7 linked regions of the Homo sapiens genome follow. The protein of the gene in region 1 purifies or fractionates together with the protein of each later gene. This does not show direct contact. Each region holds a gene or a part of one and is shown in the gene's direction. Other genes may lie near its edges.

Evidence for each region.
Region 2: the proteins of PABPC5 (region 1) and IREB2 purify together in Homo sapiens (affinity purification with mass spectrometry; one large-scale study listed by BioGRID and IntAct). This does not show direct contact.
Region 3: the proteins of PABPC5 (region 1) and DHX30 purify together in Homo sapiens (affinity purification with mass spectrometry; one large-scale study listed by BioGRID and IntAct). This does not show direct contact.
Region 4: the proteins of PABPC5 (region 1) and AQR purify together in Homo sapiens (affinity purification with mass spectrometry; one large-scale study listed by BioGRID and IntAct). This does not show direct contact.
Region 5: the proteins of PABPC5 (region 1) and RPF1 purify together in Homo sapiens (co-immunoprecipitation; one large-scale study listed by IntAct). This does not show direct contact.
Region 6: the proteins of PABPC5 (region 1) and SLTM purify together in Homo sapiens (affinity purification with mass spectrometry; one large-scale study listed by BioGRID and IntAct). This does not show direct contact.
Region 7: the proteins of PABPC5 (region 1) and LARP1B purify together in Homo sapiens (affinity purification with mass spectrometry; one large-scale study listed by BioGRID and IntAct). This does not show direct contact.

Annotation. Positions count from the first base shown.
Region 1 is NC_000023.11:91,433,343-91,438,223, forward strand, and holds the start of PABPC5 (polyadenylate-binding protein 5), read left to right. Parts: upstream 1-1,496; 5' UTR 1,497-1,552; intron 1,553-1,560; exon of another isoform or gene 1,561-1,657; intron 1,658-2,092; 5' UTR 2,093-2,235; coding exon 2,236-3,384; 3' UTR 3,385-4,881. UniProt on the Homo sapiens protein: Binds the poly(A) tail of mRNA. May be involved in cytoplasmic regulatory processes of mRNA metabolism. Can probably bind to cytoplasmic RNA sequences other than poly(A) in vivo.
Region 2 is NC_000015.10:78,440,498-78,444,923, forward strand, and holds part of IREB2 (iron-responsive element-binding protein 2), read left to right. Parts: intron 1-4,426. UniProt on the Homo sapiens protein: RNA-binding protein that binds to iron-responsive elements (IRES), which are stem-loop structures found in the 5'-UTR of ferritin, and delta aminolevulinic acid synthase mRNAs, and in the 3'-UTR of transferrin receptor mRNA.
Region 3 is NC_000003.12:47,809,065-47,813,490, forward strand, and holds part of DHX30 (ATP-dependent RNA helicase DHX30), read left to right. Parts: intron 1-1,592; 5' UTR 1,593-1,619; coding exon 1,620-1,647; intron 1,648-4,426.
Region 4 is NC_000015.10:34,962,639-34,967,064, reverse strand, and holds part of AQR (RNA helicase aquarius), read left to right. Parts: intron 1-2,774; coding exon 2,775-2,831; intron 2,832-4,426.
Region 5 is NC_000001.11:84,488,581-84,493,006, forward strand, and holds part of RPF1 (ribosome production factor 1), read left to right. Parts: intron 1-1,052; coding exon 1,053-1,148; intron 1,149-1,738; coding exon 1,739-1,892; intron 1,893-4,426.
Region 6 is NC_000015.10:58,877,874-58,881,929, reverse strand, and holds the end of SLTM (SAFB-like transcription modulator), read left to right. Parts: intron 1-1,822; coding exon 1,823-1,931; 3' UTR 1,932-2,880; downstream 2,881-4,056. UniProt on the Homo sapiens protein: When overexpressed, acts as a general inhibitor of transcription that eventually leads to apoptosis.
Region 7 is NC_000004.12:128,064,101-128,068,526, forward strand, and holds part of LARP1B (la-related protein 1B), read left to right. Parts: intron 1-4,426.

The DNA of each region.
Region 1 (4,881 bases):
TCACACTGTAAAACCCATTTATTAGTCTATAATATCATTGTTCATATTTGCCTTTTCTCAAAATCTCCATGTCTTAGTTAACCAAGAACACTAGAAAGCAAGCAAAAAAAAAAAATAGTAAAGAAAATTACTAAGTTTTTGAGTAAATAATGAGGTTTAATGTCAACTCTACAGTCTAATAGACACTATAAAATGTATAAAGTGAATGAATACGTTAATTTAGCCTCTTATTCTGAGGACTTATTAGGAAAACACCCACTAAGGTAATGTCCTTCTCTTGCAATCTTTTTTTCCCAGGATCTTTTCCAGCCTAAGAGTAGTGATAGATGTTTTGTTTGGATTTTTCTGGAGGGGTAGGAATTGTGGAAGGAGCCTCTTGAAGTGTTGTTTGCGCATGCTAGATATCAGTGAATTTCTGAAAACACGGTCAAAATTTCTCTCCAAAAGGGTTTCTCAAATACTCTGAAGAGAGATATTGTTGAGAAACTGCTGAGTTGAGTCCAGTCTGATGGCACTGTTTCCTTCAAGGGTTTCAAGTTGACAACTCATGATGAAATTCATAATTGTGTAAAGTGCATATATCTTAACATGTTTATTTCATCTGTAAATATTAATTACATATTTTGTATTGATTCTGTGGCTTTTATCTCTTTAACTGAGATTTTGTAACTGTAATTCTCGCGGCAGCTCAACAGTTTCAACGTTTTGTGGCACTAAACACCATCAAAAGCCATTATATGGCTCTCCAATCATTAAAACCTTAGTATTATGGGATCAGAGAAAAGATCTCTTTGCCTACCACCTGAGGAAAATATTACCATTATGTTGGAGATTAATGAAGTAAGGCTAAAGGCCAAAGGCAACATGGTCCTGTGTTCTACTTGACCCTGTGATCCTTTAGCACTGGATTGGGAGGCCAGGACATTTGTAAACTTTGACTTTCCAATGCACTCAGGAAAGTATGCAACCTATCCTTTTCCCTAAGCTTAAATGATTTTGATAATTAGTTTTTTAAAACTTATTATTTTTGCCCAGGTCGTCATCTTCTTATGTGATTTTTAGATGTTCGGCTTAAATATAGTGTTTTAAATAATAAATAACATTTAAAATATAAGAAACATCTAAAAGCCATCTTAGATTTTTCTTTCTCTCCTTCTCTCTCTCTCTCTCATTCTCTCCCCTTCTCTCTCTCTCTCTCTCTCTCTCTCTCTCTCCCCCCTTCTCTCTCTCTCTTTTTTTTTAAATCTTGGTACAGAGGAAGCGGGAAGTTACTTAGCACGGTTCCGGGTTTCTCGCGCCCCGCCTGTCCCCCCTCCCTATCACTGCTACTGGCTCTTGGTCCCTCCGTTGGACTGTCCTGCGGAGAGAAACCCCAGCCCATCGGTCTGCGCTGGGACCGCCCGCCGCGCATCTGCCCTTCTTCGCTGACTCCGCCCCGCATCTGGCCAGACCCGCCTCGCGTCAGAGCTGACCCACTCACTGCGCGTTTGCCAGTCAGTCTCTCCGGACCTGCCTCGAGCCTCAGGCTGCTGAAATCACCGCGCCTCACTCGGTCCGTACCCAGTGGGCATCTTGGGTATCTGGGCGGTCTTCGATCCCCCGCGCGTGTGTCTGTCTGTCTGTCTCTGTGTCCTATCCGCTGCCTGCAGCCTGCCTGCCGGTCTTATCGCACCAAGTGTCTGGTGTACCCTTTCGCAGACGCTGAGTGCGGAGAGGCCTTAGCGAAAGGCTAGCCAGCCCGAGACTGGCCAGGCAGCCGGCGGAGGAATACGCGCTCGGTCCCTGCCCTTGTTGATATCATTTTAAACCAACAGGAGCTCTAGGCCTATATTTATGCAGAAAGCGGGTCGGGAGGCCTCTGTCTGCAATGCTAGTTGTGGGGAACCAGCCAGCTGCTTGGTGGCTTCTCACAATTTCACGGGGACAGGAAAATTACGTTTCTGGTACTGGCTTTTGAAACTGATTTTAAATCTGAACGGGTGACAATTTTAAGTCCCCGCAGGGAGAATAGATTCGTATTTGGGGCGCCTTTTTGTCTGATGTGTTTGTTCTGAGCCTGCTGACCAGCTGTTTCTGAACTTCATTTTCTCAGCCTCGACAGTGATTCTGAGTCTGCTTTTAGCTTCCTTTTGCCTGCCTTGGCTTTTTCTGTTCGTGAACAGCTGTTTGGCCCATAGCTTAGAGAAAGCAGCCTTTTTTCTCTTCAAAGAGAACCTCCTCCCAGTGCTCAGAGAGATGGGGAGCGGGGAGCCTAATCCTGCTGGCAAGAAAAAGAAGTATCTCAAGGCCGCTCTGTACGTGGGTGACTTGGACCCAGATGTCACCGAGGACATGCTCTATAAGAAGTTCAGGCCTGCTGGCCCTCTGCGATTCACCCGAATCTGCCGTGATCCGGTGACCCGCAGCCCCCTGGGCTATGGGTATGTTAACTTCCGCTTTCCCGCGGATGCAGAGTGGGCCTTGAACACCATGAATTTTGATTTGATTAATGGAAAACCATTCCGCCTTATGTGGTCTCAGCCAGATGACCGCTTAAGAAAGTCTGGAGTGGGAAATATATTCATCAAAAACCTGGACAAATCCATAGACAATAGGGCCCTGTTTTACTTATTTTCTGCTTTTGGGAACATTCTGTCCTGCAAAGTCGTATGCGATGACAACGGCTCTAAGGGTTATGCCTATGTTCACTTTGACAGCCTGGCCGCTGCCAATAGAGCCATCTGGCACATGAATGGAGTGCGGCTCAACAACCGCCAGGTGTATGTTGGCAGATTCAAATTCCCAGAAGAGCGGGCGGCTGAGGTCAGAACCAGGGATAGAGCAACTTTCACCAATGTTTTCGTTAAAAACATTGGAGACGACATAGATGACGAAAAACTGAAGGAACTTTTCTGTGAATATGGGCCAACTGAGAGTGTTAAAGTAATAAGAGATGCCAGTGGGAAATCTAAAGGCTTTGGATTTGTGAGATATGAGACACACGAGGCTGCCCAAAAGGCTGTGCTAGACTTGCATGGAAAGTCCATCGATGGAAAAGTCCTCTATGTAGGGCGAGCACAGAAGAAAATTGAACGCCTGGCTGAGTTGAGGCGGAGATTTGAACGGCTGAGGTTAAAAGAAAAAAGTCGGCCCCCAGGGGTGCCTATCTATATTAAGAACTTGGATGAGACAATCAATGATGAAAAACTGAAGGAGGAATTTTCTTCCTTTGGGTCAATTAGTCGGGCCAAAGTGATGATGGAAGTGGGGCAAGGCAAAGGATTTGGTGTGGTCTGCTTTTCCTCTTTTGAAGAGGCTACCAAAGCAGTGGATGAGATGAATGGCCGCATAGTGGGCTCCAAGCCCCTGCATGTCACCCTGGGCCAGGCCAGGCGCAGGTGCTGAGAATAAGAATGCTCAGTTTGTTTCAGCCTTAGTTGGTGCCTCCTTAGTTTGGGCTCCTTTGTGATAAGGGGTTATTTTATGCTAATTCACAAGTTTTTTTTTGAAGTGAATTCTTTTGAAAAAAAAATGCAAAACTAGAAAACTTTATTCATTTTAGAATAGAACATAATTTCTAACTGTAAAATTGTCATTTTGTACTTTTTTTGATGTAATATCCTTAGAAATCTGTAGAATAAAGTGTATTCCTCCACTTTTTTTTCCTGAACAGTCAAGGTGAGGCAATTGATTGAGTATATTTCCCTTCTTATTTCAGTAATACTCTATTTTTTTTCATGAAAATGTCAACATGGTTCTTCTGAATCTATCACAGTGAAAAGTTCTAACTTGTTTTTGAGAAGTCAGTACAGCAGGGGAAAACATATGTGATGCAATTAACATCTGCATAATTTCACTTAAAATTATTATGCAAAAATGAATGTTTTTTCAAAAAATGTGAAATGTATTTTATTTTCTTTATTTGTATTCTTGTTTCATTTTTTAATATGTTGTGAACATGCTACAGATTTGATAGTACTTTTGACTAAATGTTGGGAGTGGTCGTATTAACTTCTTGCCCAAAGAAGTAAGCATATTGGTGTTTTCTCAATTAGTCACTGAGAAAATTAACACTTTAGGCAGTGGCTATTTAAAGTAGGAATTGCATCTTAAAAACCTTTCCTAAGAGATTTGGTATGTGAGGATACTTTCAGTACCACTCCTACCATTCATTTTTCTAAATTCCTTAGTACATATACTTGGATCATGTTAAATTAACAAGAAAGATGAATAACTGCGCTGAATTGCCTTTACCTATAAATAATTTAATATTTTACCTTCGGGTTTTATCAACTGTCAATATAAAAGGCAGTACTCCACAGAATGATGTTGAAAAACTTCTTCGAAGAACACCTTCTATTAAACTTGTTATCTCTTGTAAATTATTGTGTGTGTCCTTTTGATAATATTCACAGGTGTTTCAAAGGTAAGGAATAGGTTGTCTCTTGGATTAAGTCATATGCCTCCAGCCATTATATGAGAACTGTGAAACCAATATGGTTTTCTTTATGTCTTGGCTGCTTGAAAATTAAAAAAAAAAAAGGTTTGTTCAATATTGCCGTTACATTTATTAGCCTGTAATTTCTAAATTGGAGATTCTCTACATTTCACTTGCAGTTTCCTGTTCTCCTCATTGCCTGCCTTCCATTCATATTACACTTATTTTTCTATTTTTTGTATTACCTTTTTAAAAATATATACCAGTTCAAGTCCTTTTAGGAAGAAGAAAATACCTAATTTATGTAAAATTTAAATAATTACTTTTTTATAATATGATTCACTTATGCCACAGATTCAACATTAGAATATGTTTTATCTCTACTGTCAGTTTTATTACCTTATATACAAATCTTCATTTTCATACATAGTACAATGTAAATATATAACTTTGTTAACACTTTT
Region 2 (4,426 bases), on another chromosome or scaffold:
TACAGGTGTATGCCAACACATTTATATAAAAACATATTTTTATATTTTTTGTAGAGTTGGGGTCTTGCTGTGTTGCCCAGACTAGTCTCAGACTCCTGACCTTAAGTGATGCATCTGCCTCAGCCTCACAAAGTATTGGGATTGCAGGCCTGAGCCACTATGCCTGGCCTGTTTTACTTTGTCAAATGAACAGTGCCCACATCTATTCTTTTTGCCATCTGTTGAATAGGAATCACCAACAGGACCCATTGATTTGAATTTTTCTGAAGTATTGGGCATGGTTTGCCCCAACCTACACACCTGCAGTTTTGGCAGACATTCTCATTGACCTTATCAGGGTCAAACCTTTCTCTGTGGTCTCAGAAGAGTGAATGTGGGCGACCTATAGGGCATTGAATGGAAGTTTTGACTTTACTAACAGTTGAGTAACTTTCTCAATTGGGCCAATAGAGAGACCTCTTTAGAAGACTCATTATTCTTTGTGAACTTTTCCATGACAATGACATGAAAAGATAAATTGAATGCCACATCTGTTGCAGTCAGTTTTGGAAGGAGCTTTAATCTTGTTTTTTCTTGCATTATTTAATTAAGACGATTGTTCTTGTGATTTTTCTGTAGATTTTGAGGAATTTAAATATTCTTGACTGCTATGTGCAATATTTTTTGTGTATTGTGAAATACAGCTATTTTGGAGTATCTTAAAGAATCCCCATTTTAGAATTAGGCTGTCATTTAAAAATAAACAGTTTGCCAAAATGAGAGCAATATCCTTTACCTTGCATGTTTAGCTGCAGTGATTTGTGTTGATACGTTTGTTAAAGGAAGTTGGTCATTTTCTTAATGTATGTCTTTCACATTAATTTTATCCCTTCACTGATGGTGAGTTTGCATTAATTTTGAAAAGAAACAGCTAGATTGATCGTTTACAAGAATAGTCATTTTATTTCCCATTTACTTCTCCAAAATAATCTAGTGATACTGGCTTGGAAGTCTTTTAACCCAAATTTCATAGTTTAATAAATTAAAGGAGCACATAAGATGTTTTGAAAATTGAGTATAAATACTTTCTGTGTATAATCTGTAGAAATGTGCTTACTTGAAGGAAGATGACCTAAATTTCTCAAATTTAAGGAATCAGTAGGAAACTGTCAAAAACAACTGTAAAATGCATTGAAAGGGAATGATTGATAATCTGAAAGTTAAATTTTCCCTGGGAAATAAGTTGTCATGGGAATTTGTACATAACTGTACAGAGTACATGTGTACTTAACATAATTCCAGAATTACCAGTTTTTATAACCATGATAAATGTAATAATAGAATACCTGTGACTATAAATACTTTCAAAACAGAAAGTTGGTTTTTATGTGGGGTCAGTACCCTGGTTTTTATTTTATTTTATTTTATTTTATTTTACTTATTTTTTTGAGACAGGATCTTGCTCTGTCACCCAGGCTGGAGTGCAATGGTGTGATCTCAGCTCACTGCTGCCTCTGCCTCCTGAGTTCAAGCGATTCTCGTGCCTTAACCTCCCAAGTAGCTGGTACTATAGGCGTGCATCACCACACCCAGCTAGTTGTAGAGATGGTGGTTTTACCATGTTGGTCAGGGTGATCTCAAACTCCTGACCTCAAGTGATCCACCCACCTCAGCCTCTCAAAGTGCTGGGATTACAGGAGTGAGCCACTGCGCCCAGCCCCTCCTGCTTTTTTAATAGAGTGCTTATTATGAGAGGTTATTAAGTAATAATTACTTAAGTAATTTCCTAATAAGGAATAAAATTTGAAGAATTGACTTTGAAAGAAAGGAACAAGTTAGGTAGGAAGTATTTGGTTGTTTAACCTTAGAACAAAAAATCCTTATTGCATTTTTGAAAGGATCAGATTGAATTGCCTCCTAGACATATGCTTACAAGAAGACATTGCTTTGGTAGTCACCAAGGTACAGAGCCAGTCTTCTCCACCTCCATTCCACATTTTGATGCCTGCTAGGTTGAGAATGACTGTTGTAATGAGTAACGATTAATGAAGGGAATGGATTCTATCCCTCATAAATGTTACAGAGTAAAGATAGTTGAGAAACACTGTTCTAAGCTCCATGCTGACTATGTCAGGGATGCCTGCAGCTGCAAAGAACTGAAAACTTGCTGTCCAATGACTTTAAGAAATACGAGTTTATTTTTCTAACATAACGAAGTGTGGAGATTGGCAGACTGGGGCTGTGCAGCACCAATCTCCGCAAGGATCTAGGCTCGTCCTTTCTTCCCGTTCTGTTTTTATTCTTTTGGTTGCACCTCCAGGCATTATGTCCAAGTTAAATTTTCCCTGGGAAATAAGCTGTCATGGGAATTTGTACATAACTGTACAGAGTACATGTGTACTTAACATAATTCCAGAATTACCAGTTTTTATAACCATGATAAAAGCCCTCTCCAGGGGCTTTTGCCTCTTTGGCCAAAGTATCAGTGGCCACTCTTAGCTTCAAGAAGGCTGAAAGATGGAATAATCAAGGTCTTCTCTTACTCATGGGGGATATGTTCCAAGACCCTCAGTAGACACCGGAGACTATGGGTACTACCAAACCGTGTATGTACTGTTTGGTATATATTTTTTTCTATACATACATAGCTATGATAAAACTTAATTTATAAATGAGGCACAGTAGAGATTAATAATAACTAATAATAAAATAGAACAGTTATAACAATGTACTGTAATAAAAGTTATGTGAATATGGTCTTTCTCTTTCAAAGTATCTTATTGTGCTGTTCTGCAGGTAACTGAAACCACAGAAAGCCAAACCATAGATAAGATGGGGTACTGTATTTTACCTTTACATCTTTTACAATAGAGAAAGGAAAGGGAGAAGTGGTTGGGAGTGGGTGGTGAGTGAACCAGCCTAATCTATCTGCGTTACCAACCTGATGCCTTCTCTTATTCTGACTTTAGATAGAGTTCAACACAGATTATTTGATTTCTGCTTTTTTACTGCCATTTTATCCTTTTGCTTCCCAAATTTATACTCAGGGTATCTCTATGGAAGTGGGCACATCTTAGACATTGATTACATTTTGATCTTGTATGATTTTGCTTGTGGGGAATCTCCTTTGTTTTTTTATTTTTTGTGGGGTTTTTTTTGTTTTTTGTTTTATTTTGTTTTGTTTTTTTGAGACAGAGGCTCGCTCTGTTACCTAGGCTGGAGTGCAGTGGCATGATCTTGGTTCATTGCCACCTCCATCTCCAGGGTTCAAACGATTCTCGTGCCTCAGCCTCCCAAGTAGCTGGGACTACAGGTGTGTGCCACCACATCCGGCTGATTTTTTATTTTTAGTAGAGATGGAGTTTCGCCATATTAACAAGGCTGGTCTCAAACTCCTGACCTCAAGCAGTCCTCCTGCCTTGGCCTCCCAAAGTGCTGGGATTATAGGCGTGAACCACTGCACGCAGCCAGTTGTGGGGAATCTCTTTAATATTCTGGAGCTGGCTGTCTGGCACTCCCAATGTGCTGACTAGAAACATGTCAAAATCTAGGTAGTCTCAAAATGTAGATTTTGAGTAACTCTTTAAAAAAAAAAATTATAAAGATGGAGTTTTACTGTCAACCTGGCTGGAGTGCTCTGACATGATGATAGCTCACTGGAGCCTTGAACTCCTGAGCTCAGGAGATCCTCCCACCTCACCCTCTCAAGTAGCTGATTTGGGTGACTCTCTTAAGTAGATCTCTGAATTTGAAACTATTGCTATTTTTAAGGAGTGGAGAAATCAGTGGTGTCTCCATGTATGATGGAGGACAGTTAACATCAGAGAATTAGAATGAACAGCATAATGGAAACATGAATGACTATGTTGAATGAAGGGGAAGATGGTGGAGAGACTGGCCTGGCTGGAGTGAAAGGTAGTTTTGAGAGAGTACCTGTTACTGGGCAACAGGGCCTCTGGTGGTGTAAAGCCCCCAGGCACCCTTTATCTCAGGTCATCTTATTCACCCTTTCTTTTGTCCTTCCTGTCTGCTTGCCTTTTTAACCACAGTACTGCTTAGTCCTCCAGTAGAGCCGGGACTTAGTGTCCAAATCCTACCTTGCAGCCTTTGGAAGAAAATCCTGTATTTAATTTTTTAGGAGAGTTTTTATCATTTAGAAGAATCACAAAAAGACAAGAACATTGCAGATGGTACAGAAAGTCTCATTTTTATGTGTATACAAAAATATATGTAAATATGCTACTTTTAATAAAAATAAAGTATATGTTGTTTTGTAACCCTTTTTTTCACTTAATATATCATGAACATCTTTCCATGTCATTGAATACAGGTATCCCTTGCTATCTGAATCTACTTGGTTTCTGAGTCAGGGAGCTTGAGTTCAGGTAGAAAGGGATACCTGTACTTCTCTGTGGCTTCTAATAGCTGCACAATATTGCCTGTATGA
Region 3 (4,426 bases), on another chromosome or scaffold:
TTTTTTTAGTAGAGACGGGGTCATGTTGGTCAGGGAGTATTGTTTTTTAAGTAATATTCACTTAAAATGTTTTAGATTTTATAATATTCTGGTTTTCTTTTAAATTAGAATGTCAAATTACACACTTTTTATTTTCATTTGGATAGAAGGTGTCTATGGAATGTAACTTCTTTTTTTTTTTTTTTTTTTTTTTTTGAGACGGAGTCTCACTCTGTCGCCCAGGCTGGAGTGCAGTGGCACAATCTTGGCTCACTGCAAGCTCTGCCTCCTGGGTTCACGCCATTCTCCTGCCTCAGCCTCCTGAGTAGCTGGGACTACAGGCCCGCACAACCATGCCTGGCTCATTTTTTTGTATTTTTTTAGTAGAGACGGGGTTTCACCGTGTTAGCAAGGATGGTCTCGATCTCCTGACCTCGTGATCCGCCCACCTCGGCCTCCCAAAGTGCTGGGATTACAGGCGTGAGCCACCGCGCCTGGCCGGAATGTAACTTCTTAAAGTAAATGTTATCATTGTTGATATTGTATTGAAGTTTTCTCTGTGATATACCATATCCTATGGGCTGAAATTTCCAGCATCCCTTGGGGAGTGGAGGCCATCAGGGCAGACCTGCTATGGACCTGAAAGATTCCGCCCCAGGTCAGCCCTCCACTCCCCACCTCCCCACAATTTGAGAATGAGAGGGAACAGGAGTCAGGAGCCGGAGTGTTGGCCCCAGTAGACTCCAATCAATGTTGGACATGATTCTGATTGGCTAAACACTGTGTAGATGTTTTTAAACAAAGTCCATTTAAGGTTACTGCACTAATCAAGGAGTACTGGATTATAAAAACATCTATAAATCTGAGTTTGAGTATTTTTTAAAACAAAATTGTTAAACCAGATGTGTTGCTTTTTTTTCTTGTCATCTCTAAGTATAGTCCTCAGTTAAATATACTAATAAGCAAAATGCACCAAAACTTTTGGCTAATAGTTGTGCTTTAACTTAATATTTGTTATTTCATAGAGACTGCTATGAAAAGCTTTTTATTCTGAATCACTGTACAGTTATTCTTTGATCCTGTCAGTCAAATCTCATTTTTAGGGTCTTGACTAGGTTTTATGAAAGCCCAGTAAGGCAGTTTGCCCATAAGGCAGTCATCAGTCCTGTTTCCTGATGCCACATGACAGAAGGGGTCCATGTAGAATTTCGTTTCTTCCTGGAAGTCCCAAGGAAACCTGCAAGTATTATGATAACTAGGAAGGAAACCTGCAAGTATTATGATGAACTGGGAAGGAAACCTGTAAGTATTATGATGAACTAGATAGAACTACATGTCTCTCATGATGAAATGCATCTCCCTCTGTTTAACAGGATATGGGGAGTTTTAGGACAGGGAAGAAAGTGCTCAATTAGAAAGAAGCAAAGACAATTACTCTAGAGTGGAGCTGGCCTTCCAGTCCTCAAGACTGGGGAGCAGCAGTTGGGGCTCATTAGTGAAGAGTTTCATTTTTTTCATTTTCTGAACAGTGCTCTCCATGTTACTGAAGTCTTCTTTGTGGGTTGCTGGACCAGGAATATTAACCATTGCCTCTTGGCCCTCCTTGTTCTCAGGATTCCAGCTTTCCCTCCTGGCCAGAAATGTTCAGCCTGGACTCATTCAGAAAAGGTAAGACTGCAACTGTGCTTGTGACCTCATGCCCTTCCTTATTGGGATGGGCAGCTCTGAGGGCTGTGAAAGTCTCTCCCCAGTATGTAGTTCTTGCACATTTCTTTGGGTGGTTTTCCAAAGGCCTTTCCTATAGCCTTCCTTTTGCATGGTGCTTAGAATCTGTGCCAACCCTTGCCATGGCCTTTGCCATGCTTCCTCCCAGTGCCCCCTTCTGCGTACTCCCTGCTTATTAAAATCCTTTTTTTTTTTTCTGAGATGGAGCCTCACTTCTGTCGCCCAGGCTGGAGTGCAGTGGCACGATCTCGGCTCAGTGCAATCTCCTCCTCCTGGGTTGAAGCAATTCTCCTGCCTCAGCCTCCGTAGTAGCTGGGATTACAGGAACCAGCTGCCAAGCTCGGCTAATTCTTTTTTTTTTTTTTAGTTGAGACGGGGTTTCACCATGTTGGCCAGGCTGGTCTCAAACTGTTGACCTCAAGTGATCCACCCACCTCGGCCTCCCAAAGTGCTGGGATTACAGGTGTGAGCCACCGTGGCTGGCCTCTAAAATCCTATTTTTCTAGGCTAGTATTTTATACCATCTCCTTCATGAACCTTTCCTAATTCTGTTGACCAAATGCAATCTTTCTCCAATCTTCCTCGGTACCATACCTGTTCGTTCTCATGGTTAGTCTATTCTGAATTAATCATTTTGTCACTAGATTGGAAGCTCCCTGTAGCCAGGGCCTGTTGTGTGCTTTTACGATGCATAGCACCTGGCCAGCATTTCGCACATAGTAGGCCTCAGTAAACACTGGTGGAAGTTGGATTGAGTCTGTATTAGGCTGTTCTTGCATTGGTATAAAAAAATACCTGAGACTGGGTAATTTATAAGAAAAGAGGTTTAATTGGCTCACATTTCTGCAGGGTGTATAGGAAACATGGTGCTGGCATCTGTTTGGCTTCTGGGGAGGACTCAGGGAGCTTTCACTCAGGGGCAGAAGGTGAAGCGGGAGCAGGCGTGTCACGTGGCAAAAATCAGGATCCAGAGAGAGAGAGTTGGGGAGGTGCCACACAATTTAAACAAGATTGGCTGGGCATGATGGCTCACGCCTGTAATCCCAGCACTTTGGGAGGCCAAGGTGGACGGATTGCCTGAGCTCAGGAGTTCCAGACCAGCCTGGACAACACAGTGAAACCCCATCTCTACTAAAATACAAAAAATTATCCAGGCGTGGCAGTCTGCGCCTATAGTCCCAGCTACTTGGGAGGCTGAGGCAGGAGAATAGCTTTAACCCGGGAGGCAGAGGTTGCAGTGAGCCGAGATTACACCACTGCACTCCAGCCTGGGCAACAGAGCAAGACTCAGTCTCAAAAAAAAAAAAAAAAAAGGCCATGTGTGGTGGTGGGCACCTGTAATCCCAGCTACTTGGGAGGCTGAGGCAGGAGAATCGCTTGAACCTGGGAGACGGGTTGCAGTGAGCTGAGATCGTGCCATTGCACTCCAGCCTGGGCAACAAGAGTGAGATGCCATCTCAAAAATAAATAAATAAATAAATAAAATAAACAACAGGATCTCATGAGAGGCTGGGCGCAGTGGCTCACACCTGTAATCCCAGCACTTTGGGAGGCCAAAGTGGGCGGATCACTTGAGGTCAGGCATTTGAGACCAGCCTGGCCAACATGATGAGACCCGTCTCTACTAAAAATACAGAAAATTAGCTAGGCGTGGTGGTGTGCACCTGTATTCCCAGCTACTTGGGAGGCTAAGGCACGAGAATTGCTTGAACCCAGGAGGTGCAGGTTGTAGTGAGTCAAGATTGTGCCACTGCACTCCAGCCTGGGCGACAGGGCAAGAATCCATCTCAAAAAAAAAAAAAAGATTTCATGAGAATTTACTCACTATCACAAGGATAGTAGCAAGCCATGAGGGATCCATTCTGTGACCCTTCAACAGCAGAGATTACATTTCCTTTTTTTTTTTTTTTGAGACGGAGTCTCACTCTGTTGTTGCCCAGGCTGGAGTGCAGTGGCACGAGCTTGGCTCACTGCAACCTCTGCCTCCCGGGTTCAAGCAATTCTCCTGCCTCAGCCTCCCGAGTAGCTGGGACTACAGGCGTGTGCCACCACACCCGGGTAATTCTTGTATTTTTAGTAGAGATGGGATTTCGCCATATTGGCCAGGCTGGTCTGTAACTCCTGAGCTCAAGTGATTTCGCCCATCTCGGCCTCCCAAAGTGTTGGGATTACAGGCGTGAGCCACCAGCAGGAGATTACATTTCAACATGAGATTTGGGTAGGGACAAATATCCACACTATATCAAAGTCATTCTTTCGTTAGTGATCATAGAAACTCTGGCAAGTCTTGCCGGGCGCGGTGGCTCACGCCTGTAATCCCAGCACTTTGGGAGGCCGAGGCAGGCGGATCACGAGGTCAGGAGATTGAGACCATCCTGGCCAATATGGTGAAACCCCGTCTCTACTAAAAATACAAAATAAAAAATTAGCCGGGTGCGGTGGTGGGTGCCTATAGTCCCAGCTACTCGGGAGGCTGAGGCAGGAGAATGGTGTGAACCCAGGGGGCGGAGCTTGCAGTGAGCCGAGATCGCGCCACTGTCTGGCCTGGGCGAAACAGCGAGACTCCATCTCAAAAAACAAAAAGAAATTCTGGCAAGTCTTGAAATTAGTGCTCTACAGCACACTGAGTGAGGGGGTTGCATAGGCAATGGCAGAATTGAGCCTTGACAGGGCTATAGGGTAGAGTTCACAATGTGTTTATAGGAGGTAAAGTAGCCTGTGG
Region 4 (4,426 bases), on another chromosome or scaffold:
GTCTCTACTAAAAATACAAAATTAGCCGGACGTGGTGGTGCATGCCTGTAATCCCAGCTACTCAGGAGGCTGAGGCAGGAGAATCACTTGAACCCAGGAGGCAGAGGTTGCAGTGAGCTGAGATCACGCCATTGTACTTCAGCCTGGGCAACAAGAGCGAACTCCATCTCAAAAAAAAAAAAAAAAAAAAAAAAAGGCCAGGGTGGCCTTGAAGGCAAAGATTACCTTTCTTTGCACTCTAGAAGAGCCTAAACAGTATCTGGCAAATATTAGACATTAATGTTTGTTCCCATGGCCCAAGATTGCTGAGAACCTTCCTTTCTCACACTACATCTTAATGATCTGGCATATTTGTTCATTAATTCACTTATGTATCCATTTGACAAATAGTCATCACACAGTGTGTGCCTAGTACAATACCAGGTGCTGGGAGTACATGGGGAATAAAACAGACATGTTCTCACAATCTAACACACAGTCTGTGGAAGGAGACTTTAAGAGACTTAAAGAACTCACTGTAGTTTAATGTGAGAAATGCCAGATTGGGGTATAAGGGAAGTGCTTTGAGAAAAGAGCATGAAATTATTACTTTGTTGAAGGAAAGAATTTCCAAGAAGAATTTTCTCATTGAGAAAGTATCATTTGAGTTGGACTTTGAAATGCAGAGAGGAAAGTGGGGGAATTGGTTTTCTAGGTAGAGGGGACATCTTGGGCTTAGGTGTTTTCTTCTTCTTTCTTTTTAATTTAATTTCTGAGCATCTGGCATACCTAGCCAGAAAAGGTACTTTTAAAATTATTTATTGAATGAATGAGATCAAGAGGTTAAAATTTAGTTTTAAGGAGATTGGAGATCTGAACTTTGTGACCTCACTTTTTTATACCATTATATTTTTATTTCCTTTTTTGTCTTTCAGTAAGGTTTACTTTAAACAGTTTATACTGTCATAGCTGTACTAAGTAGAGAATGGAAAGTTTTTATTTTACATGAGACTAGAGAGTTTGAGGGAGGGCAATGTGTATATACTGTGAGATCGTGATATTTGAGACATTACACGTTAGACCCCAAGGGAAAGGAGAAACTCAGAGAAGAGACATGATAGATGCTTAATAAATGTTTGCTAATCTTTAATCAAGTACAGATGTACAGTAAGCAGTTTAGATCAGAGATAGGATATACATTTTTATTTGTAATTTCCTGAGTCCATCATAACAGGTTAGACTCAATTCTCTTAATGGTATGATGTAAGAAGAAGATGACTGAATTTATGATGCCCATAGGGAGCAGAATGAGGAAATGAGGACACCACAGAATAACTGGGGGTGAGGTGAAGATTTTCTATTGAGTTGGAGAGTGATTGGTAATTTGGGAAGGTGTTATTTATTTATTTATTTTAGAGACGGAGTCTTGCTCTGTCGCCCAGGCTGGAGTGCAGTGGCTTGGTGTTGGCTCACTGCAATCTCCACCTCCCAGGTTCAAGCAATTCTCCTGCCTCAGCCTCCCAAGTAGCTGGAATTATAGGTGCACACCACCAAGCCTGGCTAATTTTTGTGTTTTTGGTAGAGATGGGGTTTCACGATGTTGGCCAGGCTGGTCTTGAACTCCTGACCTCAGGTGATCCGCCTGCCTCGGCCTCCCAAAGTTCTGAGATTACAGGCATGAGCCACCATGCCTGGCCGGAAGGTGTCATTTAAGTAGGAAGTTACTGTAATATTTTTAGAGGCTATTCCTCAGGGCCAGTGTCCTAACTGCCTGGGAGGCTCTTTAAGTGTGTTGTATGTGTTCATCACTGAGCTATAAAAGCAAAGAAAACAAGTCCCATCTCTTAAGTATTCCAATTAAATGAGAAGGAAAGATGGATAAGCAATCAAATATTTATAATATAGAAAGGTAAGATTATAAAGAGTTATATACAAAATGAAGAGAAGGAGAAAGCAATTGTCACCATCAGGTAGTGTTGAGGACAGCCTCACAGAAGTAACATTTCAGATTTTGCTTCATTTGTCCATCCATTCATCCATCAGACTTTATTAGTGCCTCTGATATGCCAGACACTGCAGAGTAGTCACCTTTTTATAAATATATTGAGTCTTTGTGCTTGCCAGTTTTCTATTTTTAAAGAGATTATAATTGGGTTTTAAAACAAAACCCTATGAATAAGACTATGCTGTTTCTTTAAATATGTAGAGAGAGTTATATATTTGTTTAAATTTCACAATTTACAGGTCAAGCCTAATCTGCTGAAATATGCCAGCTCTTATATTCTCTGTAATAAGCAGCCGATAGACTACAATTTTTTTTTTTTTTAGGTTTTGTTATGGGTGTGAACTAATCATTTAAAGGCTCATTATTTTAGGAAAGCATTCATGAAGATTTTGAGTATCATTTGTAATACTTGCTCAACTATTAACTAACTGTAATCTTGGGCAGATCACTTATTTTTTCTAGACCAGGGTTTCCTTATTGCCATGCTGAAGATGTTTGGCTCTGTGGTTATTAACTGAGCTGTATTGTTTCTCTAGGGTGGTTGGAGAGGATTTTGTTTGTTTGTTTATATCACAATGGCATGTTGTAGTGCAAAGCACTACTGGCATTTAGTGGTTTGGGGTCAAGGATGCCAACTGGCCTGCATGCCTGTGTAGTGCCTTCAGATATACTCTGTCCCCCAGTGCCGAGTAGGGCCTTGTTAAGAAACCGCTTATCACTAAATGATCTGTCTTCCAGCTCTACAATGGCAAGAATCTGGGACTTACTGTTTATACTGTTTACTTTGCAGTTAGCATGTAAATACTGGGCTCCCCACATCAAGAAGAAATCACCTTTTGATATAAAGGTAAGTATTTTTGGTTTCAACATAATTCTTGAGAAGTTACACTCCTTTTAAAGGGTTATTTCAACAAAAGCTTTCCATAATTTTTTTAAAATTAAAAACAACCTAACGATCTACAAAAAATACAATTTTTTGCTTATCAAACTTAGCAATGATTTATGTTAGGAAATTTGGAAGACATAGAAACTACACATAAGAAAATAATCACTACACAGAGATAACCTCTCTTACCATTTTGTTGTATTTTCTTTAAGCCTTAACAAAAATGTGTATGTGGCTGGGCACGGTGTCTCACGCCTGTAATCCCAGCACTTTGGGAGGCCAAGGCCAGTGGATCACAAGGTCAGGAGATCGAGACCATCTGACCAACACGGTGAAACCCCATCTCTACTAAAAATACAAAAAATTAGCCGGGCATGGTGGTGGGCGCCTGTAGTCCCAGCTACTCGGGAGGCTGAGGCAGGAGAATGGCGTGAACCTGGGAGGCGGAGCGTGCAGTGAGTCGAGATCGCACCACTGCACTCCAGCCTGGATGACAGAGCGAGACTCCATCTCAAAAAAAAGAAAAAAAAAAAGTGTACGTGTATAATTTACTTAACTGTTTTTCTGTTTATAGATTCTTAGGTTATTTTTAATTTATCATTATTATAAATGATCATGTAATAAATATCTTTGTAAATATACAGAAATTTTTGTACAAGTTTTTGATAGTTCATTTAGGATTAAATCTGTTGGGTTATCTTGTTTTTAGAGTGGTGAATGAGGTAAAGGTCTATAATAAAGATGGAAGGAGCAGCAGTTGTATAGTGTAATAACTTAAGTCCAGTAATATTCAATAAGGGAATTGAACTTATTCAATTGAATAAGTCCAACTGAAGCAATTTAGAACAAATAATATGACAAATTCCCAAATATAGGGTTAATTCTCATTGGATTAGGTTCTTAAAGAGAGGTCTAAGGCCAGGTGTGGTGGCTCATGCGTATAATCCTAGTGCTTTGGGAGATCAAAGAGGGAAGATCACCTGAAGCCAGGAGTTTGAGACTAGACTGGACAGTAGTGAGATCTCGCCTTTACAAAAAAATTAAAAAAATTGGCTTGTGCAGTGGCTCACACATGTAGTATCAATTGCTCTGGAAGCTGAAGCGGGAGGATGACTGACTGAGCCCAGGAGCTTGAGGCTGCAGTGAGCTGTAATCAGGCCACTGCACTCCAGCCTGGGCAACAGAATGAGACCCTGTCCCTTAAAGAGAGTGAGGTCTTTAAATGAAATAGATGTTGACACTGCATACCATTCAACAAGTAATGAAGACTCTTAAGCTTTGCCATTATAAATTTAATGGTGATGCTTTAGGCACTGTTGGTAAAACTGAACTTTTTACCCAAAATTTCTTACTTTATTTGAACTTAAATTCTTACGAATATATATTTGTTTTTGCCAGTAATCTTTTATTTATTTTTTTTTTTTGGAGGTGGAGTCTCGCTCTTGTCACCCAGTTTGGAGTGTAATGGCACGATTCTGGCTCACTGCAGCCTCCACCTCCTGGGTTCAAGCGATTCTTCTGCCTCAGCCTCCTGAGTAGCTGGGATTACAGATGCA
Region 5 (4,426 bases), on another chromosome or scaffold:
CTAATGTCAAATAAATAGAAAAATCAACAGTGCCATCTTTGCCACGTTCCTGATTTTCAAAAGAATACTTCCAATGAGTCAACATTAATATTTGTGTCACTAGAGATAGATTATTATGAGTTAAGGGTTAAGTAAATTTTACTTATTCTTATGATTTTGTTTTGTTTTGTTTGTCATGAATGAATGTAGAATGTTATTAGATGTTTTCTTTGCAAATATTGAGGTGATTATGTGGCTTTTCTCTTACTGCATTAAACATCATAACCAAATTGGATTTATTAATTCTTTGCTTAGAATTAATTATATCTGTGTTCATGAGTGAGACTACAGTAATGTCCACTTTTCGTTCCTAATATTATTTTATTTTGGCTTTTTCTCTTTTTTAAATCAGTTTTTACCAAGATATCTATTCTCTTAGTCTTTTCTGAGTACTTTCTTCTTTGATCCTGTTGAATCTTTGTTTTCTAATTCATTTATATCTCCTTTTATCTTTATTATTTTCTTCTGCTTCCTTTGAGTTTATTCTGTATTTATTGATTTGCTCAATATATATTTTTTCTAATATGAGCAGGTATAGCCATAAAACTCTTTCAGACTACCACTTTTGGTATATTCCACAAATTTTAAAAGGTACTACTTTCATTAATGTTTAAATCTGAGTGTCTCTCAATGGAAGATTTGTCTTCTCGTAATTTCATTAGTTTTTTTTGGTTCTTTTTTTGTTTGTTTGTTTTGTTTTTTTTGTGGTTATTGTTTTTACTAACCAAGTTGATGAGGGAAATGAAAGTAGTTCAAGAGTAAACACATCTCAGTTTCTGCCCTGAAGTGATTTCTGACAATTTTATTCAGTTTTGTACTTGTATTTTACACAGGAGAAATCCACTCATCCATTCTCTTCACGTGTCCATTAATGTCAGTCCTTCCTAGTCTGTCTTTAAAGCCCCTATCAGCTAGATACTCAGTGTCCAACAGTCCTGCTGATGCTACTTTTAGAATTCTGGCCCAGTAGAGTATTTCTTTGATGTAAAATTATTCCTCTTCTCTGTTCTCAGGTCGCTTATGATGAAGCTACAGATGAATTTGCTTCTTACTTCAACAAACAGACTTCTCCCAAGATTCTCATCACAACATCAGATAGACCTCATGGGGTAAACACATTGATTAATTTAGTTCTTGAATTCTTAATTTTCTTATTACTTCTATTTAAAGTACTCTGTTCAGAAGAGTTAAACCATTAGTTAATTGCCTTAAAGAATGCCTGTGACTAAGTAAATAAAACGTAGCTCTGGTAATATGATGTAGGTTTACTAAACATGATTCTTCAAGATAGGATTTCTCAACCTCAACATTGTTAACATTTTAGCTGGAGAATTCTTTGTTATGGTGAGCTATCCTGTTCATTACAGGATGTTTAGCAGCTTCCCTGGCCTCTATGCTTTAGGTGCCAGTAGCAACCACACACCACTACCACTACCATCAGTCATAACCATCAAAAATGTCTCCAGACATTGCCAAATGTGTCCTCTGATGGAGCAGAATCGCCCCTAATTGAGAACCACTGCTTTAGGATGATCAGCCTTTGATAAAAGAGGACACACTGTTCGAGTTTCATGCTTTCCTCAATGTTGCTTTCTATTAATCATAATAATTATTATTTCTTTCCTTATGAATATGTACCACATAAGATTTTTATTCTTTTTTGAAAACTATTCAAAATTTTTGTTATTTTGTTTTGCAGAGAACAGTACGACTCTGTGAACAGCTCTCCACAGTTATACCAAACTCACATGTTTATTACAGAAGAGGACTGGCTCTGAAAAAAATTATTCCACAGTGCATCGCAAGAGATTTCACAGACCTGATTGTTATTAATGAAGATCGTAAAACCCCAAGTATCCTTTTTTTTTTTAAGGAGGTTTTCCTGTCCTCTCCCTCACCCCCCTTAAAAATATATTTAAAAGAATAAGGAAATATTGCCTATAACTTTCAGAAAATAATTTTTTTATCAGAAAATTGTATCTCTTTCCAAGAGTCTATAAACTGATTTTTCCTTTGTATTCACCAAACATTTATCAGGCACATGCTACAGCCAAGAGATTGTTGTAACTCTTAGTAAAAGATGCAGAGCTAAAACAAGAGACAACCAGGAAATTCATAGGTGGAGTAAATGGATATGTAAACTGACAAAATATAGTGTGGATGGTACAATTAAATAGAGAAATGCAGGATATAGTGGGGACCCTGTGACTGGTACAAAGTCTGCCCTGGGAGGAAAGACTTCCCATAGAAAGAGATGCTGAAGCTGGATCTAGATGGATGAGGGTGAAGGAGGGGAATAAGGCAGAGAAAAGCGCTCAGTGCAGAGGGACTACCATTTGGAAAGAGAGGAAGGAAAGGGCTGACCTAGTTGGGGATCTGCATATGGTTTGTTGTGGCTAGATTTTACATTGCCAGAGGTGGTATCACAGGATTAAGTTTTTGAGGTAGAGACTTGGGCCCATGTTATGTGTGTGTTCCAGTCTAAAACTTTTTCTGTGAGTCTCAGACCTGAGATGAATGTGTCACCTGAACCCAAGGTATTTCTTCCTGTTGAGATAAGAGATTTGATAAAGGATATCTAGGTTTGTTATTATTGTTGCTGTTTTATTTATTTATTTATTGAATGATGGCTATGAGTTCAGTAACCTTAAAGATGACCAATTGAATGAGTCATCTTTATGATTTTTAATTTCATTAAAATAAAATTATAAAGAATTTACAAAATAGGGACAAGACTTTCTGTGCTGCCAGAATAACATTTTATTTCTAATATCAGTGAACACTCTATTAGTGGTTTAAAAGGCTGTTTTTAAAAAATCTAACTTTTATGACTTTAATTGTTATCAATATAACTTACTTTATCCACTTGTACTAGTAGCTTTCCAGAAACTACTATAACAAGCTTTGTAATGTGTTTTGTTGGCCATATTATAATTTGGCTTAACTGGATTAATGTACCAAAATATCTAAAATCTCTTGAATACTTAACTACTCCAGAAAAAAATTATTTTTAAGGTAGTTGCTGCCTCTTTTTCTTTTTTTAAACTGCCTCCACAAAGTGGCAAGGTCTGTTTTCCTCTTTTTATTTTTGGCAGTTAAAAAACAACTGTCATCACTTTGAGGCCACTAGTAACTCTGCTAAGAAGCAGGCATTCATCAATTCAATAAATGTTCTATCCCTGTTTTATCCAGGGTGTTTTATATAGTCACACAAATTTCACTTATACCATCTATTGCCTTTAAAAAGTTTACATTTTCTGGCCGGATGCGGTGGCTCACACCTGTAGTCCCAGCACTTTGGGAGGCCTAGGCCAGCAGATTGCTTGAGGTCAGGAGTTTGAGACCAGCCTAGCCAACACAGCAAAATCCCATCTCTACTAAAAATACAAAAATTAGTTGGGCGTGTTGGTGCATGCCTGTAATCCCACCTACTTGGGAGGCTGATGCACTAGAATTACTTGAACCCGGGAGGCAAAGGTTGCCATGAGCAGAGATGGTGCCACTGCACTCCAGCCTGGGTGACAGGGCAAGACTCTGTCAAAAAAAAAAAAATGGTGATTATCCTAGAGACTTAGCATGGGTTCAGGAATAAAAATCACAACTCCTAATGGTGACACATGGGGGGAAAGTTGAAAAAACAGGATTTAGCCTGTGGGAAAGTAGATTCTAGGAACATGGCGTCTTTCTAAAGACCATTGGAGGGGCTACTGTGTGGAAGAGTAGTGCTGAATGGTGAAAGTTAAAGGGATATACTTTTTTGACTTATTCTAAAATAGAATTTCATCAGCTGTCTAAACTGTAGAAACCTAGTAGTGGCTTTGAGTCAGGGCAGCTGTGATATCAAATACAGATTCCATTATTTTCTAGTTTTGTGATTTTAGTCACGTTTCTTAGCCACTCAATTTCCTCGTTTTTTAAATGTGGGAAATAATACCTATCTTTAGAGTTCCCACAAAGATCACATTAAATGTATTATGTTTATAAAGCATAGTGTCTGGCACATGGTAGGCATTTTAGTAAACGTGGTATAGTGAGAAGCATGTAAACTTTATCTGTACAGACCTACATCCTCTATTCATTATTTCTAAATGGGGAACTACTGTTATTTGAGGTAGGGTAATTATTTGTGCTACACTCTTGGCAGCTTCCAAGATGGTTTGCATTCCTGGCCTTTGGATTCTAAATGCCAGTAACACCTCAGTCATACTGACAAACAAAATGCCTCTGTACATTTCCAAATGTGAGCAGCTGTCAGCAGGGGGCTTAAGCTAGGTGCAGTCCCACCGTGGTTGAGATCTGCAGTTGCCTTAGTCTGATTTACTTAGGCTAATTTACTTGACCCTCTTCAGCCTCTTTTCCTCATTACTGAAATAGGCATGATGACTCC
Region 6 (4,056 bases), on another chromosome or scaffold:
CGTGTGGCTCTATTTTTTTTTAAATGTTTCTCAGGCTGGGCACAGTGGCTCATGCCTGTAATCCCAGTACTTTGGGAGGCCAAGGTAGGTAGATCACTTGAACTGAGGAGTTTGAGACCAGCCTGGGCAACATGGTAAAACCCTGTCTCTACAAAAAGAAAGTTTATCATAGCTATCCCTTATTCCTCATTTTAGCTTCTATCTGATCTTCCCAATTATTGTGTTCCATTACCCCATTTGTAAATTGAACTGTTGAAACTCCCATTTTATTATACCATTTATTGCTCTAAAACCACAACAAGCAGCTGCTCCAGGTCACAGGATTGAGCCCAGATTCCTCAGCCTGGCCCTTATAATCTAGTTTTATTCTGCCTGAACCATTTCACTGTAGATTTTTTTTTTTTTCCAAGACGAAGTATCTGTCCCCCAAGCTGGAGTGCAGTGGCACTATCTCAGCTCACTGCATCCTCCGCCTCCTGGGTTCACGTGATTCTCCTTCCTTGGCCTCCCAAGTAACTGGGACAACAGCGTGTGCCACCATGTTCAGCTGATTTTTTTGTATTTTTAGTAGAGATGGAGGTTTCACTTTGTTGGCCAGGCTGGTCTCAAACTCCTGTTCCTCAGGTGATCCTCCAGCTTCAGCCTCCCGAAGTGCTGGTATTATAGGTGTGAACCACCACACCCGGCCTTCACTGTAGATTTTTATCTCCTGGTTTGTTAAAGTTTTTTCTTTTTTGAGATGGAGTCTCGCTGTGACACCCAGGCTGGGGTGCATTGGCATGATCTCAGCTCACTGCAACCTCTGCCTCCCGGGTTCAGGCAATTCTCCTTGATCCGCCCGCCTCGGCCTCCCAAAGTGCTGGGATTACAGGCGTGAGCCACTGCGCCCGGCCTGTTAAAGGTTTTTTGTCGGGGGAGGGGGTCTGCTTTTTTGTGTTACTAACATCTGCTCTGTTGCATTACACATAAAGATTCCAGAAATATTCTTAAATGACTTCTATAATTTAGTTCACAAGCTTTAGCAAACAACAGAATCACCTGGAGGGCTTGTTAAAACACAGGTTGGCCGGGCGTGGTGGCTCCTGCCTGTAATTTCAGTACTTTGGGAGGCCAAGGCTGGCAGATCTTTTGAGCCCAGGAGTTCAAGACCAGCCTGGCCAACATGGCGCAACCCTGTCTCTAAGAAAAATAAAAAAAATTAGCTGAGCATGGCGGCACTTGCCTGTAGTCCTAGCTACTCTGGTGGCTGGCTGAAGTGGGAGAATCACCTGAGCCCAGGAAGTCAAGGCTGCTGCAGTGAGCCATGAATGTGCCACTGCACTCCAGCCTCGGTGAAGTGAGTGAGGCCCTGTCTAAAAATATATATATTTAAAAGAACAAACAAAGAAAAGCACAGGTTGCTGGGAGTCCCACCCTCAGTTTCTTTCTCTGTGGTCTGAGATGGGGGTGAGAATTTGCATTTCTAACAGGCACCCAGCTGGTGCTGCTGCTGCTGGTTTGGGGTCCACACTTAAGAGATCTGCTGCTGTAGTCCACGTGCAGATCCACAACTGGCTTCTGAAGTAATGGGGCTTCAAAGTGAGATTGCCCAAGTTCAAATCTCTGCTTCACCATTTTATTAGCTCTGTGACCTTGGAAGAGTTCCTCAACCTCCAGATCTGTTTCTTCAGTAAAGTGGGGTTAGCAATGGTTCAGACCTCACGGGACTGTTGAAAAGAGTAAATGATTTATTTTGGATAAAGTACCAAGAACAGTGCCTGGTATTTGCAGTGATGATTTGTTCTTTGTTCTCTGATGTTTTTTTCTTTTAAACCTTTTTCAGTAACGCATCCCCAATTAATAGAATTGTACAAATCAGTGGCAATTCCATGCCAAGAGGAAGTGGCTCCGGATTTAAGCCATTTAAGGGTGGACCTCCGCGACGATTCTGAAAATGAGCTCTCTGCCAAGGTTTTAAGATAATTTATTGAAATCTCCTGTAAACTTTACTTGACTACTTATGAAGAGGACCTCTGACTTGCTTGAGAGTTCTGTCAGACTTTTCTTTTTAAAAATTTAACATGATTGCTTTTCTCAATTTTGGAGAAGATGTTTAAATAGTTCTGTTGTAACTTTTAATAGTTTTGTGTATCATTCAACTTTTTTTCTTGCAGCACCGAGGCACATTTGAAAAGATGGAATTGAAGTCGTTTTGTTTAACGCTGTGTGAATATAAAGAGTAGTTTGCAGCTGTGTGGTAGTGGTTTAATTTGCAGCCTTAGCTCTGTGGTGTCTGGCTCTAGAGTTACTTCTTTTTACCAAGCATTTTCAGCCTCCATTTTGAAGGCTGTCTACACTTAAGAAGTCTTAGCTGTCTAATTTTTAGAGAATAAGATTGTTCATTGCATTTCTGAGTATTATGTAACCTATTTTTGCAGAAGGTACTGTTACATTAAGTGCATCTGTGTATCCTGGTTTAAAAAAATGTAATCTTTTTTGAAATAAACCTTCATATTCTGTATAGTTGCTAAAGTGTTGAGAACCTTTTTAATTGTAAAATGAGAACCGATTTTCAGTTTAGTGTAGCAGCACACTTGTTCAGGTTTGCATGGTATGAAACCAAATAGATTCATGAAACCTTGGCCATGAGGTTTGTTTCACAAGGTTCTTAGACCGAGTTGTGCAGGTAAGTGCACTTTTAGGTAATCTGCACTGTTTGTTTGATGGATAAATTCCATCTCTGGGAATTGTGTGGGTATTAATGTTTCCATGTTCCCAACTATGTTGAGAAGTGGAAAAAAACCCAGGTTCTAGATGGGTGAATCAGTTGGGTTTTGTAAATACTTGTATGTGGGGAAGACATTGTTGTCTTTTTGTGAAAATAAAAATCCACACCTGGAAGTGTATGTGTCTTTGTTTTCAGCGTTTTAGGTGTTAGTCGTCCAGTTCTTTCTGTAGTTCAGCCCAAGGTGACTGACTAGATATAGAGCTATAAAGGCATTCTTTTGGTCTTTGTTCTTCAGAAATAAATCTAGCTTAGACTCTTCACCTCAGTAGCTGGGCAGCACATGCTGTTCACATGTTAGAGACTTAACCACTAATCCTATGGCTTTTTTAAAGGCATCTCTTTTAGGAAAGCCCTTCAAGGTAAATGCTGCTCTTTCAAAAAAGCTTCCCACATCCCTTTATATAAATCAGTGAAGAAAAATCCAAATGGTCTAGATTTTGGTAAATTCAGCACTCTCTATGCTCAATACGGTCATGCCCATGAGATGGCTCACACTTCTGAGTGCCGTGGGGCAACCAAGGTTCTGTGGTCTCTGGTCCTTTGGGGAACTTCTCTGGATTTCTTACGTTTTCTGCCATTCCCAGTCCTACAGCTGTGGGAGCAGGTTGGGTGTCTGCGTTGGTGTAGGGGAGGTCTACCTCATTTTTGATCACTACGTGTTGTAGAGTGGCACAGGAGAAGCCTCAGTATCCATTGGAGTGAATGTTGGTGACTTTGGGTTAGAATGTCACTTCTCGTTGTTTCCTCATTTGTAGAGTGGGACTGTGCTTCTTAGAAGGGATTATCATACAGCTGCAAACACTGGCTAAGCGCTTTACGTGCTGGGCAATGTGCTAAGCGTTTGACATATGTTCCCTTGCCTAATACTCAGAAGAATCCTCCTAGCCACAGGTAGAATTACTGACCTGACCAGTTTTCAGATGGGAATCTGGATAGTAACCTGCCTTTTAAACATTAGATCCTTGATTTGTTTCAGTCTTTTCTACACTTATACTGAAGGGTACAAGCCTACAGACACTATAGGTAATTATTTTTTACTCGAGTTGCCATGGCGATGGCTTTAAGTTCAGAAAAGCTGACAAAACCACCTGATATGCTGGCATTGAGGTTGAGTGGCCCTCAACCATCATGGGCAGCAGCTAGCAGCGATCTGGCTGGCTCAGGGTCAACAGTGAAAACCAAATTTGGAGGTTTTTGTTTTGTTTTGTTTTTGTTTTTGAGACAGAGTCTAGCTCTCACCCAGGCTGGAGTATAGTGGCACGATCTCGGCTCACTGCAACCTCCGCCTC
Region 7 (4,426 bases), on another chromosome or scaffold:
GTCTCTACTAAAAATACAAAAATTAGCCGGATATGGTGGTGCGTGCCTGTAATACCAGCTACTCAGGAGGTTGAGGCAGGAGAATCGCTTGAACCCGGGAGACGGAGGTTGCAGTGAGCCAAGACTGAGCCACTGTATTCCAGCCTGGGTGACAGAGCAAGACTCAGTCTCAAAAAAAAAAAAAAAAAAAGTACGGTGATTGTTACAAGCACCCATTATGTTATGTTAACATTTCTTCAGAGGAACTCTCCAAAGAGGGAGATATGTGTTGAGTTAATTCATTCATTTGCCTTTGCACAGAAATACTCCTCATTAATTGTTGATAAATTTTGACACTTGCAGAAAAAAAGTTTGCTCTGGATTTAATATTGGCATAATTCCTTCCTCGCTATAAAGAGCTGTTTGTTTACTCCTATTACTAACTAAAGAGAACATGGTTAAGTGAAGACCTCATAAAGTTTTTCTTTTTTTTCTTTTTTAAAGCCCAGTGGCAAGCACTCTAAAATTTAGCAAAGAAAGAAAACCCTAGTGAATCATCTTATTTGCTGTTTCACCTCTCTACTTCTAGACTTACAGACAATTAAGTGAATTACCAAGTAGGAACTCTTTGTTGATCATAAAACCAGTATCATAGATTTTAAAACTTCGAAGCCATACATGGTAGTGTGTGCCTGTAGTTTTAGCTCCCTGGGAGGCTGAGGCAGGAAAAATCAGTTTTGCCCAGGAGTTTGAGGCTGTAGTGTCCTGTCATAGTGCCTGTGAATAGCCACTGCATTCTAGCCTGGGCAATATAGCAAGACCACGTTTAAAATAATAATATTAATAATAATAATAATGATAATAGAACTTTAAAAACTGTCAAGGTAAGCCTTGGGAACTTTAATTGCAAATGACCTGTGAAAAATATTTAACAGTTAAGCTATTGGTGCCTTCATTCTCCAGTCTTCACTGGAGATTAAGAACACTGTGATACTAGTTGTATGGTATGGTTCATGGAAATTTCAGTTTTGCTGTTGTCTTGTGTAGGCAACTCTTTCTGTCTTTGGATGGAATCCATTCTGCACTGGCAGGAAGACCATCTTTCAGACCTGGCATAGTGTAGTAACCATGGTCTCTTCCCAACACTGACTCTGCACTGTTCTCCCACAATTAATTTCTTTCTTTCTTTCTTTCTTTCTTTCTTTCTTTCTTTCTTTCTTTCTTTCTTTCTTTCTTTCTCTCTCTCTCTCTCTTTCCTTTCTTTTCTTTTCTTTTCTTTTCTTTTCTTTTCTTTTCTTTTCTTTCTTTTTTCAAGAGATGGAGTCTCTCTGTGTTTCCCAGGCTGGTCTTGAACTGCTGGCCTCAGGCGATCCTCCTGCTTCCCAAAGTGCAGGGATTACAGACATAATCAGGCTTTCTATTTTCTTAAGCAAATTTACAACTTCAGGAGTAAAGAAACAGGACCACAGTCTATTTGCAGTTAAATAACTTAGGTAACTTAGATAAAAGAGATTGTGGTGTAGAAACATACTGTTTTGAGAGACTTGGGTTCTAGTGCAGGTATTGTTACTAACTGGCTAGTTGACTTCTGGCAAGATTTCTGGGCATTATAAATGAATAACATGGATAGACTCATTTCCTCTGGTTCATAATACCAGAGTGCCACTTATAACCTGGCTGCCTTGGCTTCCATTTATATATTTATTTAATATTATTTAATTCATTTAAATAAATACATTTTACATTAGTTTATTTAAATAGGTAGATAGATTGTCAGTCTTGCTCTATTGCAGTGGTGAGATCATAGCTCACTGCAGCCTTGACCTCCTGGACTCAAGCAATTCCCCTGCCTTGGCATCCCAAGTAGTTGGGATGACAGGCACGCATGTCATTCCATGGAATTAGCCATGCCCGGCTAGTTATTTTTAATTTTTTTTTGTAGAGACAGGGGCCCCCTTTGTTGTCCAGGCTGGTCTTGAGCTCTTGGGGTCAAGCTATCCTGCCTCAGCCCCCACAAAGTGCTGGGACTACAGGTGTAAGCCACCCTGCCTGGCGGCTTTCTATTGTCTATTTTCTTTCTTTCTTCTTTTTTTTTTTTTTTTTTTTTGTTATATTGAGACAGAGTCTCGCTCTGTCGCCCAGGCTGGAGTGCAGTGGTGCAATCTCTGCTCACTGCAAGCTCCGCCTCCCGGGTTCACACTGTTCTCCTGCCTCAACCTCCTGAGTAGCTGGGACTACAGGCGCCTGCCACCATGCCCGGCTGATTTTTTGTATTATTTTAGTAGAGACGGGATTTCACCATCTTAGCCAGGATGGTCTCGATCTGCTGACCTCGTGATCCGCCGGCCTCGGCCTCCCAAAGTGCTAGGATTACAAGCGTGAGCCACTGCGCCCGGCCTTTTTTTTTTTTTTTTTGAGATGGAGTTTCATTCTTGTTGCCCAGGCCGGAGTGCAATGGTGTGATCTCTGCTCACCGCAACCTCCACCTCCTGGGTTCCCCCGATTCTCCTGCCTCAGCCAGCCAAGTAGCTGGGATAACAGGCAAGCGGCACCATGCCTGGCTAATTTTTATATTTTTAGTACAGGCAGGGTTTCTCTATGTTGGTCAGGCTGGTCTCGACTTCCTGACCTCAGGTGATCCTCCCACCTCCACCTCCCAAAGTGCTGGGATACAGGTGTGAACCACCGTGCCTGGCCGGGCTTTCTATTTTCTTGCCATTTTTTTTTTTTTTTTTGAGACAGAGTCTTGCTCTGTCACCCAGGCAGGAGTGCAATGGCGCGATCTTGGCTCACTGCAACCCCCCACCTCCCAGGTTCGAGCAATTCTCCTGCCTCAGTCTCCTGAGTAGCTGGGACTACAGGCGCGCGCAACCATGGTTGCCCGGCTAATTATTTTTTTTTAATTTTTACTAGAGATGGGGTTTTACCACGTTGGCCAGGCTGGTCTCGAGCTCCTGACCTCAGTTGATGCGCCCGCTTCGGCCTCCCAAAGTGCTGGGATTACAGGGGTGAGCCACCATGGTTGACCTCAGGCTATTTTCTTAAGCAAATTTGCAACTTAAGAAGTAAAGAAATAGGACCAGAAGTTGTTTAAAGTTCACAGTGGGTACCTCTAAATCTATTAGTTATCTATTAGTGATTGTATAATTTATACTATATAAATTGTATAATTCTACAAAACAGGATGCTCTTTGAGAGAGAGAATTGTATTGAAATAACAGACTTAAATCAGGTCTATCCTGCTCAAACTTGGATTTACTGTTACTCTGTTAATGAGGTAAAGGAATTCCATCCACAGAATTTTGCCAGGAAGTTTATTACTACAGTTAGAAACATAGGAAACACAGGGGAGAATATTTCAGGACAGAAATTATGAATTTTCTCTACATTACAACCTGCACATCTAAGTGAACCAGATTCTTGATGCCTCGGCCCTTGTGAGAAATTTTCTTCCACTTTTAGGATGATTTTGATCATGTGTTGCTGTTTCTAGAAATCCAGATGAGGCACTCTTCAGCCAAAGTTGCTGCCCACCCAAGAGGCCTTTTATCTTGAAATTTAGTCATGAGACCAGAAGGAACTTCTCCCATCTGTGTCCTGACTTGGTATTAGTTTTATTTTGGATACCTCCTTTTTTTTTTTTTCTTTTTTTGAGATGGCGCCTTGCTCTCGTCGCTCAAGCTGGAGTGCAATGGAGCAATCTCATTGCAACCTCCATCTCCCGTGTTCAAGCGATTCTTCTGCTTCAGCCTTCCGAGTAGCTAGGATTACAGGCGCTCGCCACCATGCCTGCATAATTTTTGTTTTTGTTTTTGTTTTGAGATGGAGTCTCGCTTTGCCACCCAGGCTGGACTGCAGTGGCACAATCTCGGCTCACTGCAAGCTCCGCCTCCCGGGTTCACGCCATTCTCCTGCCTCAGCCTCCCGAGTAGCTGGGACTACAGGCGCCCGCCACCTTGCCCGGCTAATTTTTTGCATTTTTAGTAGAGACGGGGTTTCACCACGTTAGCCAGGATGGTCTCGATCTCCTGACCTCGTGATCCACCCGCCTCGGCCTCCCAAAGTGCTGGGATTATAGGCGTGAGCCACTGCGCCCGGCCAATAATTTTTGTATATTTAGTAGAGATGGGGTGTCACCATGTTGGCCAGGCTGATCTTGAATTCTGGACCTCAGATGATTGACCCACCTTGGCCTCCCAAAGTGATGGGATTGCAGACATGAGCCACCACACCCGGCTTTTTTTTTTTTTTAAGAGACCGAGTCTCACTTTGTCACCCAGGCTAGCGTAGGAGTACAGTGACACAATCATAGCTCACTGCAGCCTAGAACTCCTGGGCCCAAGGGATCCTCCTGCCTCAGCTTCTCAAGTAGCTAGGACTACAGGCATGTGCCACCATGCCTGGCAAATTATTTTATTTTTGTTTTTTAAATTTAAAAATAGAGACA